2 linked regions of the Homo sapiens genome follow. The protein of the gene in region 2 interacts with the protein of the main gene of each other region in a biochemical or structural test. Each region holds a gene or a part of one and is shown on either strand. Other genes may lie near its edges.

Region 1 (8,189 bases), on a different chromosome or scaffold from region 2:
AGGCAGGTGGATCGCCTGAATTCAAGCATACGAGACCACCCAGGGCAACATGGTGAAACCGTCTCTACTAAAAATACAAAAAAATTAACCGAGTATGGTGGCGCACACCTCTAGTCCCAGCTACTTGGAAGGCTGAGGCAGGAGAATCACCTGAGCCCCAGAGGCAAAGCTTGCAGTAAGCCAAGATCGCACCACTGCACTGCAGCTTGGGCTACAGAGTGAGACCCCTTCTCAACAACAACAACAAAAACAAAATGAAAGACTACTTTCGTTTTCCCCCAAAAACATGGAGCATTCATATCCCTCACTTCCCAATAATCATTCATTCGTACTTAATTACAGTTTTTTTATTAAGCATTATCTACAGAACATCTTATAACACAGTGCTACTACTCAGAAATGCCTTCAGGAGAAAAAACTTAGGTCCCCTGATTCTAACTCCTTGGCACCCTTAGAAAAGTTTTAAGATCCTAGACTCACCTTGGCGTAGCAAAAACTAGTCATCCCTTTGTTCTTCAGTAAATCAGCTAGGCTGGATTGGGATTTATTAAGCCAAAGTGGGCACAAGAGGGTAGCAGCAAGTGAACCAAAAATGTTCTTTATGCTTACACTAAAAGAGGAATCTTTCCTGCATGCATGAAAGAAAATCTCTTTATCTTTCTCAATTTAAAATATGAATAATAAAAATGATAAAACAAGCTAGCATATCAACAAATATCCAATATAAAATTTATTTTGGCTTTTATTTAAAAAGATGCTTATGTTTTTACGGCAAGTTTGCTGTCTTAATAATACTTAGGTTTATGTTCAAAATCCAACTAGTTAGTTAGATGTTACACAATTTAAGAGATAATTTCAGAAAGGGGAGGACAGACGAACACTTCCACTAAAATGTAATAAGAGGCTGTTTTTGAGAACAAAGCCTGTAAAATTTCAAATAGTGAGAAAAAGAAATCTGACCAGCAAACTAAGCTACTAACCAGCACAGAAAAGTAACATTTATTCTGCTTTCTCTTCATTTGTTCTGCCGACTACACTATTCTCAGATTCACCACTTATTAAATGAGGCTTGTAAAATTTACACTTGGTAGTGAAGCAAAAATGACCAGCTATAAAGCACTGTAAGAACTGCTTCCAAAATCTTTCTTAATAAGGTTAATAAATCAGTATATAATGAGCATGATGAGTTGCTAATCTAATCATTATGCAATTAAAAATATTATAAATCTACAGTTACCTAAAGGTTTGTCTTTTAGCTCTGGATTTGAGATCATTTCTACTTGTGCATAAAAGCAATCCAGATCCACATGTACTATGACTCTGGATGAAGCATTTGGTGTGGGCAACACTTGATCATGAACTCCTGCACAATATGCAAAGAAATAAAAAGAAATTCAGGCTGCTTATTATCTCTGAGCAACTGACAGTTCCTTAAAACATGGTACCTGTGAAGGAAGAATGCAGAGTGACGTGTTTTCTCCTGGATTATGTGTGAAAGCATCGAAAAATTACAAAGACATGAAACTCCACTTAGGGTAGGGTCTTCAGTCCTCTTAATTACTGTTTGTGCACTGCGTTTTTCTCAGGATAGTAATAAGTTTGAAGGGAAAAAATGTGATAAATAATGGATGATGAAAGAGCTAATACTATCACCTGGAAGTTTATAGTAGCTCTTAGTGTAAACCAGAAGGGGCAGAAAAGTTGAAATGACGTTGATTTTCACACAGCTTGAAAATTATTCTAAGCAGCATGCCCTTACATTTAAAACAAACAAACCAACAAAAACTGAAATACAAAATGGCAAAAGACAACCAGTGGGTACAAGTGTGGGCTATTTTTAGCTCCCATGGCAGCAGGATTATCTGGTTTAATGCTAAATCGCCAGTGCCTAAAACAGTGTCTAGGACATAACAGACCACCAATAAATATTCACTAAATTGAAAGACTGAATAGTTCTTTGATTTTAAAAAGTTGTTAGGTCATTATTTGTCGGGGAGGGAATGACAGAGGCGACTCCTTCTCTCAACACTGGCTAAAAACAAGACAGGCAAAATACAATACAATATTCTGGTTGGGATCCTGGAACAGAAAATGAACGTTAGCAGAAAAACTGGTAGAATATTAATAAAGCGTGTAGTTCAATTAATAGTATTATACCAATGTTAATTTCCTAGTTTTGACAAATGTACTGAGTTTATGTTAACACTAGGGGGATCTAGCTCTGCAACTTTCAGGTAAACCTAAAGTTCCAAAATTTAAAAGGCCAGGCACGATGGCTAACTACTGTAATCCCAATACTTTTCGAAGCTGAGGTGGAAGGATCGCTTGTGGCTGGAGTTTGAGACCAGCCTGGACAACACAGCTACACCTGATCTAAAAAAATCTGAAAATCAGCCAGGTGTGGTGGCACGTGCCTGCTGTCCCAGCTACTCGGGACGGAGAGGCTGGGGCGGAGGATCACTTGAGCCCAGGGGTTCGAGGCTGCAGGGAGACCTTGTCTCTAAATTAATGAATGAAACAAAACCAGCAGGAAATGAGAACCGGTGCCTTTACATCCAGGCCCTGAGGTGGGCGGTACAAGGTAAAGACCAGAGCTGGAAGTGGGTCACCGGAGACGTGACCACAGCGGACCTGACTCCGCCTAGGTTCTGAGCCATCCCTTCCTGCCAGGACTGAGATCCGGGTCCCACCTTCTGCCAAATGAGCGACAAGGTCCTCAACTTCTCCAAAGTTAAAAGGCCCAGAAGCCTCTGCAGTTTTCGTCGGGCTGGCTGAGGGATTCCCGCCCCACCTCGCCCCTCACAGAGGAAAGGACGGCGCAGATAAACCCTCGACACGTATTTGTAGTGTGGACGCGCCCCACCCTACTCCTGCTGGGTGAAGCCATTCCTCTAGAGGTACCCGCCGCGTAACACAAGGCAGAGGGAGGCAGCCCTCTCTTAGAGGAGCCGAGTGGGGCGGGGACGGTCGCGCCCCAGTGGCCGCCGCCCCGAGCGTCCGCCTGCCCCACCCTTCTCATTTACACCCAAGGAGGCCGCTGGCTCCTCTGGCTGCGGCGCACCCTGCGAGCTGGCTGCCGCCCCCACGTCCGCCAGTTCCATGGCCCAGGCCTCGGCGTCTTCCTCGTCGTCGTCGCCGCCGCCTTCCTCCTCCGGCTCCACCCCCAGCTTCTCCATCCCGCCGCTGCCAACCGCAGCGCTACTTCCGGCCGCTTCCGCCTGGTCTCCAGGGAAACCGGGGGACTACAGTCTCCAGTCGCTCTGTGCCTCTCGCCTGCGCAGTCGTGGCCGACCAGCCTGTTGCCCAGAGTGACACGCATGCCAAGGAATCGTGGAGGCCCACGTGCGGGAGTTTTTTCCCGCCGGGTGGAGGCCGGAAGCGGAGAGATTGAAAGCACAAATGGCTATTTTTTTTTTTTTTGAGACGGAGTTTCGTTCTTGTTGCTCAGGCTGGAGTGGGCAACAGTGACGCAATACCGGCTCACTGCAACCTCTGCCTCCCGGATTCAAGCGATTCTCCTGCCTCAGCCTCCCAAGTAGCTGGGATTAACAGGCATGCGCCATCACGCCCAGCTAATTTTTTTGTATTTAGTAGAGACGAGGTTTCACCATGTTGGTCAGGCTGGTTTCGAACTCCTGTCCTCAGGTGATCCACCCTCCTAGGCCTCCCAAAGTGTTGAGATCACAGGCATGAGCCACTGCGCCTGGCCTTTTTTTTTTTTTCTTGAAGGCTTTGGAGTTAGGCCCACATCACAAATTTTAGCGTTTTGTCTTTGTTCCATTCGGCTGTTAGCAAACTTGCAAATCCCTAGACCTGAGTGATTAATGTGATGGGGTGGGAAGGAGTGTAACTGATAGTAAAGACACAGGTGGCCTTGTAAACTCATATGATTAGCAACTATGTTAAGGTTTGCTGTGTTTTGTTTGTTGTTGTTTTATTTAAAGACACTGTGACGAATTCAACCACAGAATTTTTAACATCAAAACTGAATAGGATTTGATACATGAGTGTTGTAGTCAGACAAAATCTCCAATCCAGACCCTCCATCATGCTGTGTGACTTTGGGCAGGTTACATAACTGCTGTGAGCCTCAGTTGCTCTACTCTTAAAAAAAAAAAAAAGTATTGAGATTGAATGAATGGATAAAAGCTACCATATACTGTAATATCCTAATGTATATAAAACATGTGGCACATAGGAAGTGCTCAGTAAATGTCTATTCTCCTTGCCTTCTATTAGGATACCATGTGTGCATGTGTGTGTTGGTGTGTGTATGTGTATGTTTTACAATAGAGGAAATTTGGAAATTCCTCCATGCCTGTATGTATGTATATACACTATATCTGTATAAATACCCAAATTAACACATATGTTTGGTTTTTTATATGATTCTACTTCTTATCAAATAAAATATTAGAACCTTGAGAAACCCTTTAAAGCAGCCATTCCCAACCTTTTTGGCACCAGGGGCTGGTTTCATGGAAGACAATTTTTCCACAGACAGAAGGGAGGGGGATGGTTTTGGGATGATCCAAGTGCGTTACATTTGTTGTGCACTTTATTTCTATTATTATTACATTTTAATAGATAATGAGGTAGAATCAGTGGGAGCCCTGAGCGTGTTTTCCTGCAACTAGACTGTCCCATCTGGGGTGATGGGAGATAGTGATAGATCATCAGGCATTAGATTCTCATAAGAAGCATGCAACCTAGATCCCTCGCATGCGAGTTCACAGTAGCGTTCAGGCTCCTGTGAGAATCTAATGCCGCTGCTGATCTGACAAGAAGCAGTGCTCAGGCAGTCATGCCAGTAGTGGAGAGTGGCTGTGAATACAGATGAAGCTGCACTCCCGGGCCCGCTACTCACCTCCTGCTATGCGGCATGGTTCTTAACAGGCCAGGGACTGGTTCTGGTCCATGGCCTGGGGACTGGGGACCCCTGCTTTAAAGGATATGTTGATGCATCCATGAAGAAAAGGGAATAACAAGCAGAGCTGGGTCTCAGTGGTTTGGAAACAAAATCTTCCTCTTTGCATATTTAATTCTTAGATGTCTGGACCAGTTCTTTCAAAGTCTGCTATCTAGGTTATAAATTACCTGTTCAGAGAGCTAGGCTGCTATCTTTGTGAAAGCTGTTTGATAAGTCTAGATAGTTGTTTGGTGGTTTTTCATTTTATTTAGTTATTTATTTATTTATTTTGAGACAGAGTCTCAGTCTGTCTCCCAGGTTGGAGTGCAGTGGTGCGATCTGGGCTCACTGCAACCTCTGCCTCCTGGGTTCAAACAATTCTCCTGCCTCAGCCACCTGAGTAGCTGTGATTACAGGCGTGTGCCACCATACCCAGCTAATTTTTGTATTTTCAGTAGAGACAGGGTTTCACCATGTTGGCCAGGCTGGTTTCCAACTCCTGACCTCAAGTGATCCGCCCGCCTTGGCCTCCCAAAGTGTTAGGACTACAGGCATGAGCCACCGCGACCCAGCCTACATAGAGAGCTTTTGAATTGAGTGTCTCTTTGTCCACTAAGTGCTTCTTGGACAACATTCAGTGGTCTGATTACTAATAGACAACCAAAGTTTGTTTTTCTTTTCATTCTTCCAGATAGAAAATGATATAAACACTAAAATACTATGGCAGATGAAAACGGTCTCTCTAGAAGAGCCCTAGGCTCACTAACATTCAACATGTTGCTTAAGTGAGACAGTGTTAAAAAACAATGCACGTAATCAAGCCCTCTTTAGTTAGTTGCATTTATTTCCCCATCCGTTGTTTAATTTGAAGAGTGGCTTTTAATTTCGTGAAAGGATAGAAAAGTAGACCCTTGGAAATCCTAGGGGAGCAAGCAGGGCTGGCTTGATGAGTATGTGACGTAGGCAGTCACATAGGGCTCAACACTTGATTTCATATTCTGCTCTTGTCTTGAAATTCTTAATTTTTTAACAAGGAAGCCCCATATTTTCATTTTGCCCTGGACCCCAGAAAGTATTTAGCAAGTGCTGGAAATAAAGAAGAGAAGCAGCACTAAAAAGGACACTCATAAAACACCTGTATATCAAGCACAGGGCTAAAAGCTTGAAACAGGTCATTTCATTCAATATAATAGCCCTAGAGGGTAGATGTCAGCATCCTCATTTTACCAAAGATGAAATAGCCTAGGAGAGATTAACATGCTTGCTCAAGGCTATGAATCTAGTAATGGCAGATCCACTTTTCAGAATTTTCCACAGTGAAGAATTCATTAATAATGTTTTCTCCATATAGGAAATCAATTAGCTCTGACCATTTTCCTCACTGCTTCAAACACCAGACGGCTGGTAGTGGGGAGAATAAACATCCCTCAAAGGTATTAAGAGGCACGAAAATAAAATTTATATAAGCTAACGTGTCTCATTGTTTTGGAATGTTTTAGGAAAAAAGGATTTTGGGGTTTGATTCTAAAAATCCCTACTCCCAGTTTTAATTAATAGGATCTAATCTAGAATAACTTCAGGAAATAGCTGTCTTGAGCTTGGGTCATAACTGTATATTTAAGTGCCAAATGAAGAAAACAATTTCAAGGCAGAATAGACATAGTTAATTAAATAATATTATGGTCAAACAAAATTTATGGAGGAGCATGGATTTACAGAGCGTGGCTAGTGGATAAAGAAGCTGGAGGCATTTTAGAGCTTCAGAAGTCAAGACATGCCAACACGGTGGCTCACATCTGTAATCCCAGCTACTCAGGAGGCTGAGGCAGGAGGATTGCTTGAAGCCAGGAGTTTGAAGCTTCAGTCATGTATGATTATGCCACTGCACTCCAGCCTGGGCAACAGAGCGAGACTCCATCTCCAAAAAGAAACAAAGAAAGAAAGTCAGCACATTATGAACTTAAATACATTTAAAAGGATAAGCATGAACTCCCATGTCAGTGGAGGGTAGGAAATAGGCATCAGTGGTTACTTCTCTCCTCTTAGCCAAATTGGCCACATATGGCTCAGAGGAAGAACACTAGACAATGTTCAAGGTATTTCATATGAAGAATGTGAGGGTGTTTGTGTCTGTATTTTATGTTGGTGGGTGGCTAAGTGGGTAGAGTTGACCATGGAGTTAAAGGAGCAATTTGAATTGGCAAAGGCACAGAGGATTTGATTTTGTGAGGTCTTTGGCCTAACGCAATCGTTCTCAAGCAAGCTGATTTTGTTCCCTAGTGAATATTTGGCAGTGTCTGGAGATATTTTAGGTGGTCACATCTCTGTGTTGGAGCTCTGTGCTACTGGCATCTAATGGGTAGGGGCCAGGGATATTGCTGAACATCCTGCAGTGCAAAGACAAACCTTTATGACAAAGAATTATTCATCCCAAAGTGTCAATTGGTCCGTGGTTGGGATACCAGTAGTGTCTACACCACCTTGCTCCCAACTAGCCTCTTCAGATTAGGGTCTCCAGTTGTAATGAAGAATTGGTCTTCAGTTACGTGCTTTTAATTATAGATAGGACCAGGTTTGGTGGCTCATGCCTGTAATCCCAACACTTTGTGAGGCCAAGGCAGGAGAATGGCTTGAGCCCAGGAGTTTCAGACCAGCATAGTGAGACTTCGTCTCTAAAAAAAAGTAATAAAAAAAAAAATTAACCAGGCCTGGTGGGACATGGCTGTAATCCCAACTACTAGGGAGGCTGAGGTGGGAGGAATGCTTGAGCCTGGGAGGTTGAGGCTGCAGTGAGCTGTGATTGTACCACTGCACTCCAGCCTGGGCAACAGAGTGAGACTCTGTCTCAAAAAAAAAAAGAAACACACACACACACAAAAGAAAAGAAAAGAAAAGAAAAAAGGGTATAAAAGATGAAAATAAGTATTATTTAGTTGCTTCTCACTGTGGGAATTTACATTCTGATACTAAAAAACAAATGGTATGCATTTGCTGGAAAAGAAATTTAAGAAAAATATCCACGGCTTGGCGTGGTGGCTCACACCTACAATCCCAGCACTTTGGGAGGCCAAGGTGGGCTGATCACTTGAGGTCAGGAGTTCAGGACCAGCCTTGCCAACACAGTGAAACCCCATCTCTACTATAAATCCAAAAATTAGCTGGGCATGGCCCATAATACCAGCTACTCAGGAGGCTGAGGCAGCAGAATCACTTGAACCCGGGAGGTGGAAGTTGGCAGTGAGCAGAGATCCTGCCACTGTACTCCAGCCTGAGCGACAGA
Region 2 (7,568 bases):
CAGAACTAATTAATCATAGTTCTTAGAAGCATTAAGAATTAAATAACCTTCAGGTAACAAGGCCAAGACATGATGTAAGGATAATCTAGTATCTATATTATTCTGAAATATTTCATAAATACCAAAAAGCATTTTTTGACTAAAAGCACATAGGAATACATCAAACTCAGTAAAACATAACAGAAAACACCCCACATAGAGTCTCTATCACTTTCTAGGACAGAACCATGAGCTTCTCTCTATACCTCAGTTTCCACAGCTATAAATTATAGAGTATTAATCTCTGAGGTCTCTCCCCATAAAAAAATCCTATAATCTGTAAAAGGAACTAAAATTTCAAACCAGATACTAATTTATAATGACTGGCCCAGAAAAACAGTATGCTACTGTGTGTGCATTTGTTTTTGATGACAAGAAAAGTATTAAAAAACAAAATACAATGAACCAATGTACTTAAGATGTGAAATAATCTCACTGAAAGTTTACCACTGTTAATTACAACAGCTCTATGTCAAAATTAAAAAATCATTATGATGCAAGCTTCTAGAAATTAACAATTACTCTTATCAAACCAATTTCATTCTTACAGGAGTTTAAGCACTGGATAGATGTTATATTAACACAGTTCAAAACTTCACCAACTGATAAGGTCTACGTGAGGAATGAATGCTCAGAATCCCAACCATCTTACTGTTTAAATTCTCTGAAAATTTTCAGTCAGCCACAATTATATCTAATTGTTTTAAAAATATTTTAATAAATTAGCTTTCTATGTTATGCTTACTGTAACTTACATGATTTGACATACTTAGAGACTTTTATGAGAACTTCATATTGACCAGAAATACCAATAATAGCATAAGAGCAAAATGATCAAGCATGACTGTTTCTTAAGAAGACAATTTTAATAAGTATCTACCTGTGTCAGTTACAACAAGTGCAGACCTGCCTGTTTTCATTTTTTTTAACTTTTCCCTTCCTGGAAAGATACCATTACTTTGTCTTTGTAGGGTATTGACAAACTCAGTCAATTCACACTTCCACATTGATATGTGATGCAGTCTTGAATGAGAATAGAAGTTTGAAATAAAATTGCAGTCTGAAGGTTTGGATGGCACTGAAGGTGCTGCCTTGCTAAACGTAGATACTGAAGAAGTGCTTTTTGTGCTTGAAGGCCCCTGAACAGTGGAGTGGTGAGCACCATTGATTTTAGTGTTACTGTGCAAAGGTGATAATGAGAAAGAATTAGTTCTGTGTGGATTCCGCAAAGCATCTGTGTTTCTGGTGCTTTGCTGCAACTGCTGCAGAGTGCAGTCTCTGAAATCAGTGCTGCTCTTCTCAGCCTTATCCTCCTCCTGGGAAAAGGCTGGAGAAAGCCTGCTGGCAACACTGTTGACCATGGGCACCAAGCAATCCTGTGTCTTTAAGGCACCATTAGAGCTAGGAGTGTGTCCATTAAAAATGGCAGTGCTCCCTCTGGGATGCGGAATTCCATTCTGTTTCCTTCCCGGAGAGGTCTGCTCCAGATCCACAAAACTAAAATCATTATTTTCATCTTCTTCATTCCAACTGTTCATGCCATTGACTTTGACTTCATTTTCCGTTTCAATCTTCTTAACGATGTGATTTCTAAAGCAGGAAAAAATTTTTGAGTTAATAATATCTGACTTTTAGGTTAAAACAATTTTTTCATTTCATCATTTTCTTAGTGGTACACAGTTTGGTATTTCCCCCTTTAAAAACAGAAAATTCTTATATTGAATATTGACAATGAAAAAAAAAAACCCTGAAACTTAAACCACAAACTTTATATTCTGATTTGACAAAAGATCATTCTTTGCAAAAGTAGCAAGATAACTAGAAAAATTCTAGAATATTAACAGCCCTTTAGGTGTTTTTTGTTTGTTTTTTATTTTCACTTCAGATAGTCCCAAAGAAGAAATAAAATAGAACATTTCTCATGGCTGAAGAAAAACCCAAAAAACTTTTCAGTTATTTTTCCCATAAAAAATTAATTGGAATCTATAAGCTGTAAATACCCAGTTCTGAAGCACAGTGCTTGGCATTTACTACATGGTCAATAAATATCTGCTGAATTAATATACTACAAATAACTTTCATAAAAATGGATTTAAAAACCTTACTTGAATTCTTATTCCTAGTTTTAGTTTTTATGAAAGGTACTATTCAACACATTAAATCTAATACGAAACCAGATGGTTTCAGTAGGAAAAAAACTGACTATATTGATTAACCTATTAATGAGCTAACTGTTGCACAAATAGACAAAAAGTAAAGCCATGTCAATGTGTGGGGGTAATTCAGTAAAATTTACACCTAGAAAAATAAGGACGCTTGCCTTACTGAGAAGGGAAATTGCACTTCATTTCTAAGAAATGCATATTTAGATGCCAGGGTGGTACAAGGCAATCTGGACCAAGTTTCCTGATGACAGCTTTATAAATGCAGAACCCATGACAAATGTTATGCTAAAGTCACATCCTGGCTCCTCTAGACGTTTGTTTAGAAATGCATTCACGAGAATCATCTAAGTAACAAAAACAAAAACCTGAATTACAAAGCAGTAATTCATTCTACTTAGGAATGTCCAAATGTCCATAGCATTAATTCAATTACAGCGCAGGCTCCAGATGAAGGGCTGCCCTACAGAGTAGTAAGCCACAGGTGAAATTACCACAGTATTATCAGGTTCCACCTAAAGCCCCTCACCCTAATACCAACTTGGTTTATTAGTAATGAGAGCCTGACTACACAGAAAAGTCCCACAAGCTGGATGATCACCCATTTCTGGGTTAGCTCAGGCTCTGGCTAAACATCATATGGAATGTGACAGGCAACTGTGAGTAGATGCCATGCTCACAGATGATCATGCCAGTGATGGGGAAAAAGACAAAGTAGATATGATTAAAAGAAGAAAAAAAGAAAACCTAATTTGTCACATGCAGAGAAAGTTCAGCCTCTTGAGATAAACAGAATGCAAGGGAGCAAGAAGTCACAGATGAGCATTTCAAAGAAATGTACAAAATGTACTGAATATACCCCCCAAAAAAACCCCAGAAAACAACAAAAGTGATGTACGTCAGAAAGTCTTACATCTAGTTTTGTGTCAAAAACATTCAGACCCTTTACATGCATTATAGCAACACATGCAACAGAAAGCCATATATTGGCAGGAAAATACATTGTTAACATACATTCTTGCTGTACTATAGTTTCTCAGCCTAGACAAATGGACATTTGCAAAGTAGCTGTACTGGAAATATCACGGGTAGAGATACATTTTTTAGGCAATGGCATAAATGTATTAAGAAGTAAAATCTAAAAGGTAATTTCTTCCTAAAGTGTCACAAAGAAGATTTTGAAAAAACATATCTATTTTCTACTTTTATTAATGTGGGTAAGAAAAGAAAGCTAAAGCTACGTATTCTGTGAAAAGGTTTTCTGGTATTATTTGCTATATACCTTGATAGCACATTAAAAAAAATTAAAAGCTACAGGTAACATGAAAAATATTTGAATATGCTTGTGAGTACAAGTTAAATTAACAAATGACAACAAAAATTACAGAAGGCAGTGATACTGGATCCTCTCAGATTAATTAGACTCCTGGTGTTTTCGAAAAAAAATATATCCAACTCCCAAAGCAAGCAATTTAATAAATAAAGAGAAGGCTAACCATAATGAACCACCTGATATACAAGGTAAGGCAACCCACCAATTAATTGTGAAACAATTTATCCAGGGTTGCAATTAAAAGCTTAAATTAAAAAAAAAAAGCAGCCACATGGAATAGTCTAGATTCACTTTCAATTCTATAACCAAGGGTCACCAACTAAACTTCCATTTATATATTTACATATTTAGAATGTTATGAATTTTGAATTTTTCAAAAATAACCCAGAAATATTAACATTTTCATTGTCTTTCTATGCATGGAACACAACAAAAATATAGCTGGTGCAGTTAGTTCCATTTTTGAGAAAGCAATACAGCAAATTACTTGTGAGGAAATAATTACTTTCATAAAAATCCATGAAAAAACTTATTAACAATTAAGATCCACTAGTTTAAGGTGAGAAACCAGTATGACTGTAAAAACTTACTTACATTTATGAAATTATCATTATAAAAATAATTCATTTTTAGATAAGACACTCATACACACATATTTCAACATGTTTATTATAAGTGAATGGCCAGGGTTTGTATCTGCTTCTGTCTGACTGTAACAGAGCAGGGGCCATGCTCACTGCTAAAAACCAGCTTTGTGGCCAGGCGTGGTGGCTCATGCCTGTAACCCCAGCACTTTGGGAGGCCAAGGAAGGTAGATCACAAGGCCAGGAGTTCGAGACCAGCCTGGCCAAGATGGTGAAACCCCGTCTCTACTAAAAATACAAAAATTAGCCAGGCGTGGTGGCACACGCCTGTAAGCCTAGCTACTCGGGAGGCTGAGGCAGGAGAATCACTTGAACCTGGGAGGCAGAGGTTGCAATGAGCCGAGATCATACCATTGCACTCCAGCCTCGGCAACAAGAGCAAAACTCCATCTCAAAAAAAAAAAAAAAAAAAAAAAACCAACCAGCTTTGCAGTAATCCCCAACTAGACAAACTTACACCCTGTTGTTGAGCTGTTTGGCTATATTGCTTGGACCTGGCAGAGGATCCTCAGGTCTGCATACAGGATTAAAGCTGAGACCTTTCTGCACACTGGACTGCTTGGTGTACAGCTGATATGGAATGTAGGAGAGGAGTCGTCCAGCTTTGATGCTGAAACAAAAAGCAACACCAATTTAGAGTTCCATACTTGGTGACAATGAGCTTCATGAAAAATATTCAATGTCCTTAAAGATACAGTATTTCACCAACAACAGGTCATCTGTTTTCCTAGTTTATTCCTTCTTGCTCGGTTTTAGTGGTCCTAATACAATATGATCTTAGAGTGGGGAAAAACTGCAAGCACAGAGCTGAACTAGTCAATATTTTAAACCTCATGACTTTAGTATTTACCACCCTGTCAACAGTTAACAGAGAATCATCAAGACTTCATCAAAATCTCATCTATTAAGGTTTTCCAAGATAAATAAACTGAATAAGGATGCTCAATTTCCAAATTCATGTCAGAAACTGTAAAATAAAAATATAGGACAAAATAAAGAATCTCAACTTCAAGAGTAATAATTTATACTATTTTTATGTATACAAGAATGGTTAAGAGCCAAGGCCATTTGAAGATATGAACTCTACAAGGGCCAAAACTACCATGTACATCCTCACAGCATATCACACAACACCACTCAAATCCAGGGGAACACCAGTGTTCTAACGCTAGGTGGTACTAGCACTGTAACTGAAGTTCCCAAATGTCTGCTTCCTTTTGTACTTCAGAACTAAAACTAATTTGATTGCAGTATCTAAAACTGACATTTTCTTGCTAATAAACTGAGTTATATATGGCTACTCTACCTTTAAAATTATCATTTCACTTCAAATTTAAAAATAACCAATCAATATACTTATGCTATCATCCAAATTTCAAAACAAGCTACTTTAATATTAGAAAATATTTCAAAACAACCTCTGGATTTTAAACCTAAAATATATACCAAGGAATCATCCCTCAGTTATTTAGAAAAAGACTGATAAATAACATGATAAAAATATGTTTCTTATTGTCTCATAAATCCAAGACTTGACATTTTCATTTTCTTAAATGGTGTCACACAAAACTTTTTAAAAAATAATCATTTAAGAAATGACTGAATTGGCTTACAGAATACTAATTAAAAATAACTGAGTCAACAACTTGGAATACAGGAAAACATACTAACAGATTCTAAAAACGGAACTATATATGATACAGAGTATGTCCTTTATATAATTATGTCAATATATATTTAACAATTCTACCTAAAGTACCTTAACCTATATCAAATGCTATAACTATTAAATTATGATGGTAAAGAACATACTATACTAGTCGCAAGACATGTAACCAAATGGATTTATGACCAGGCTAAATGTTTTACCAAAATTCAGGTTACATTCAAAATACATTCAAAATTTCAGGTTACATTCAAATATTAGAATCGAAACCCTAAAATTCGACTATTTTTTACTTTATTCTTCCTCAAACCAACTTTTCTTCCTTTTTTTTTTTTGAGACGGAGTCTCGCTCTGTCGCCCAGGCTGGAGTGCAGTGGCGCGATCTCGGCTTCACGCCATTCTCCTGCCTCAGCTTCCCGAGTAGCTGGGACTACAGGCGCCTGCCACCACGCCCGGCTAATTTTTTGTATTTTTTTAGTAGAGACGGGGTTTCACCGTGTTAGCCAGGATGGTCTCGATCTCCTGACCTCGTGATCCACCCGCCTCTGCCTCCCAAAGTGCTGGGATTACAGGTGTGAGCCACCGCGCCCAGCCCTTTTCTTCCTTTAATAGTTGGTCTCAATTGCCTAACTATAAATCTTTGTTCTGTGGTATTATGTATATCAAACTCACTTGCTTCCCCCACCAAAAGAAGTACAGCTACTTAATACCTGAAATAAAATCCTAACCTTAGCTTTCCATCCTTTATCATAGATAGCTATAACTAAGAGACAAGTAGAGAGTGAAACTACACCCACTGTGCCAGCTGCACATCTCAGGTAAAACCAAAAGTGCAAGGAACAAAACGCCCTATGATCATTCTCGCTTTTCCTGCCCTACTGACAGCATGCTGGAGTGATGCAGACTCTACAGGTACTCTCTATGGTCAGCACTGATCATATACAAGGGTGTCAGGCCTTATCCAGCTCCTAACAAGAGCCATGTGGCCACCCACAGAATTCTTAGGCTTACATAAGTCAGTCCATGGAGACTGCTACAAAATTAGACAGCCAATTTAAATACTGCAAGTCTCAAATCAGATATCCTCAGAGATACTCAATAAAAAGAATTAAAGCCCAATGCACTACAGTAATGTTAGTGAAGTAATGTCAGTTATAATTTGAAGCCTAAACCACTATCTATCAGTTGTATACTCCTAACTACCCCTGCTTGCCCATTTATCTATCTATAGATATATAGACAGAAACATTATCTGAAAGCATATTTGTATAAGACCTTTTTAAAAATCTCTCTGGGATTAATTTCTCACATTTACTATTTCCCCTCTTGTTCTAAGCGCAAAGGAACTGTACTGACATTTTCTACTATTCTTTCAAAACCAAAAGGAGAGGATAATAAAAAAATCCATCTTTATCCAAAAGATAATACTACACGGTTTCCTTATACACTGAGTTTTTTCATGTACATTGAAACTATATTCTGATATATACATGAAAGAGTTTACATTCTATACAACGAATCAAAACATAGTCATAGCAAGTGAAATATTCATCTATTTTGGGAAGTCTTACTCTTGCTTTGTCCTACAGCCTCTGCGTTTAGGAACAAAAAAAAAAAACACAAGGAATGGCAAAAAAAACTCATGAGAGATAAAATTGCAATCAACTTTTATTTAAATGAGTTGCATAAGCACTCTAATATTTAAACACTGAATGTAATTAGAA

What was found.
Region 1: the proteins of REV1 (region 2) and POLI form a complex in vitro, tested with the Homo sapiens proteins (one study listed by BioGRID).

Annotation. Positions count from the first base shown.
Region 1 is NC_000018.10:54,264,534-54,272,722, reverse strand, and holds the start of POLI (DNA polymerase iota isoform a (long)), read right to left. Parts: upstream 3,207-8,189; 5' UTR 3,177-3,206; coding exon 3,062-3,176; exon of another isoform or gene 2,691-3,061; intron 1,364-2,690; coding exon 1,238-1,363; intron 1,219-1,237; exon of another isoform or gene 481-1,218; intron 1-480. UniProt on the Homo sapiens protein: Error-prone DNA polymerase specifically involved in DNA repair. Plays an important role in translesion synthesis, where the normal high-fidelity DNA polymerases cannot proceed and DNA synthesis stalls. Favors Hoogsteen base-pairing in the active site.
Region 2 is NC_000002.12:99,437,682-99,445,249, forward strand, and holds part of REV1 (DNA repair protein REV1), read right to left. Parts: intron 4,789-7,568; coding exon 4,636-4,788; intron 1,630-4,635; coding exon 920-1,629; intron 1-919. UniProt on the Homo sapiens protein: Deoxycytidyl transferase involved in DNA repair. Transfers a dCMP residue from dCTP to the 3'-end of a DNA primer in a template-dependent reaction.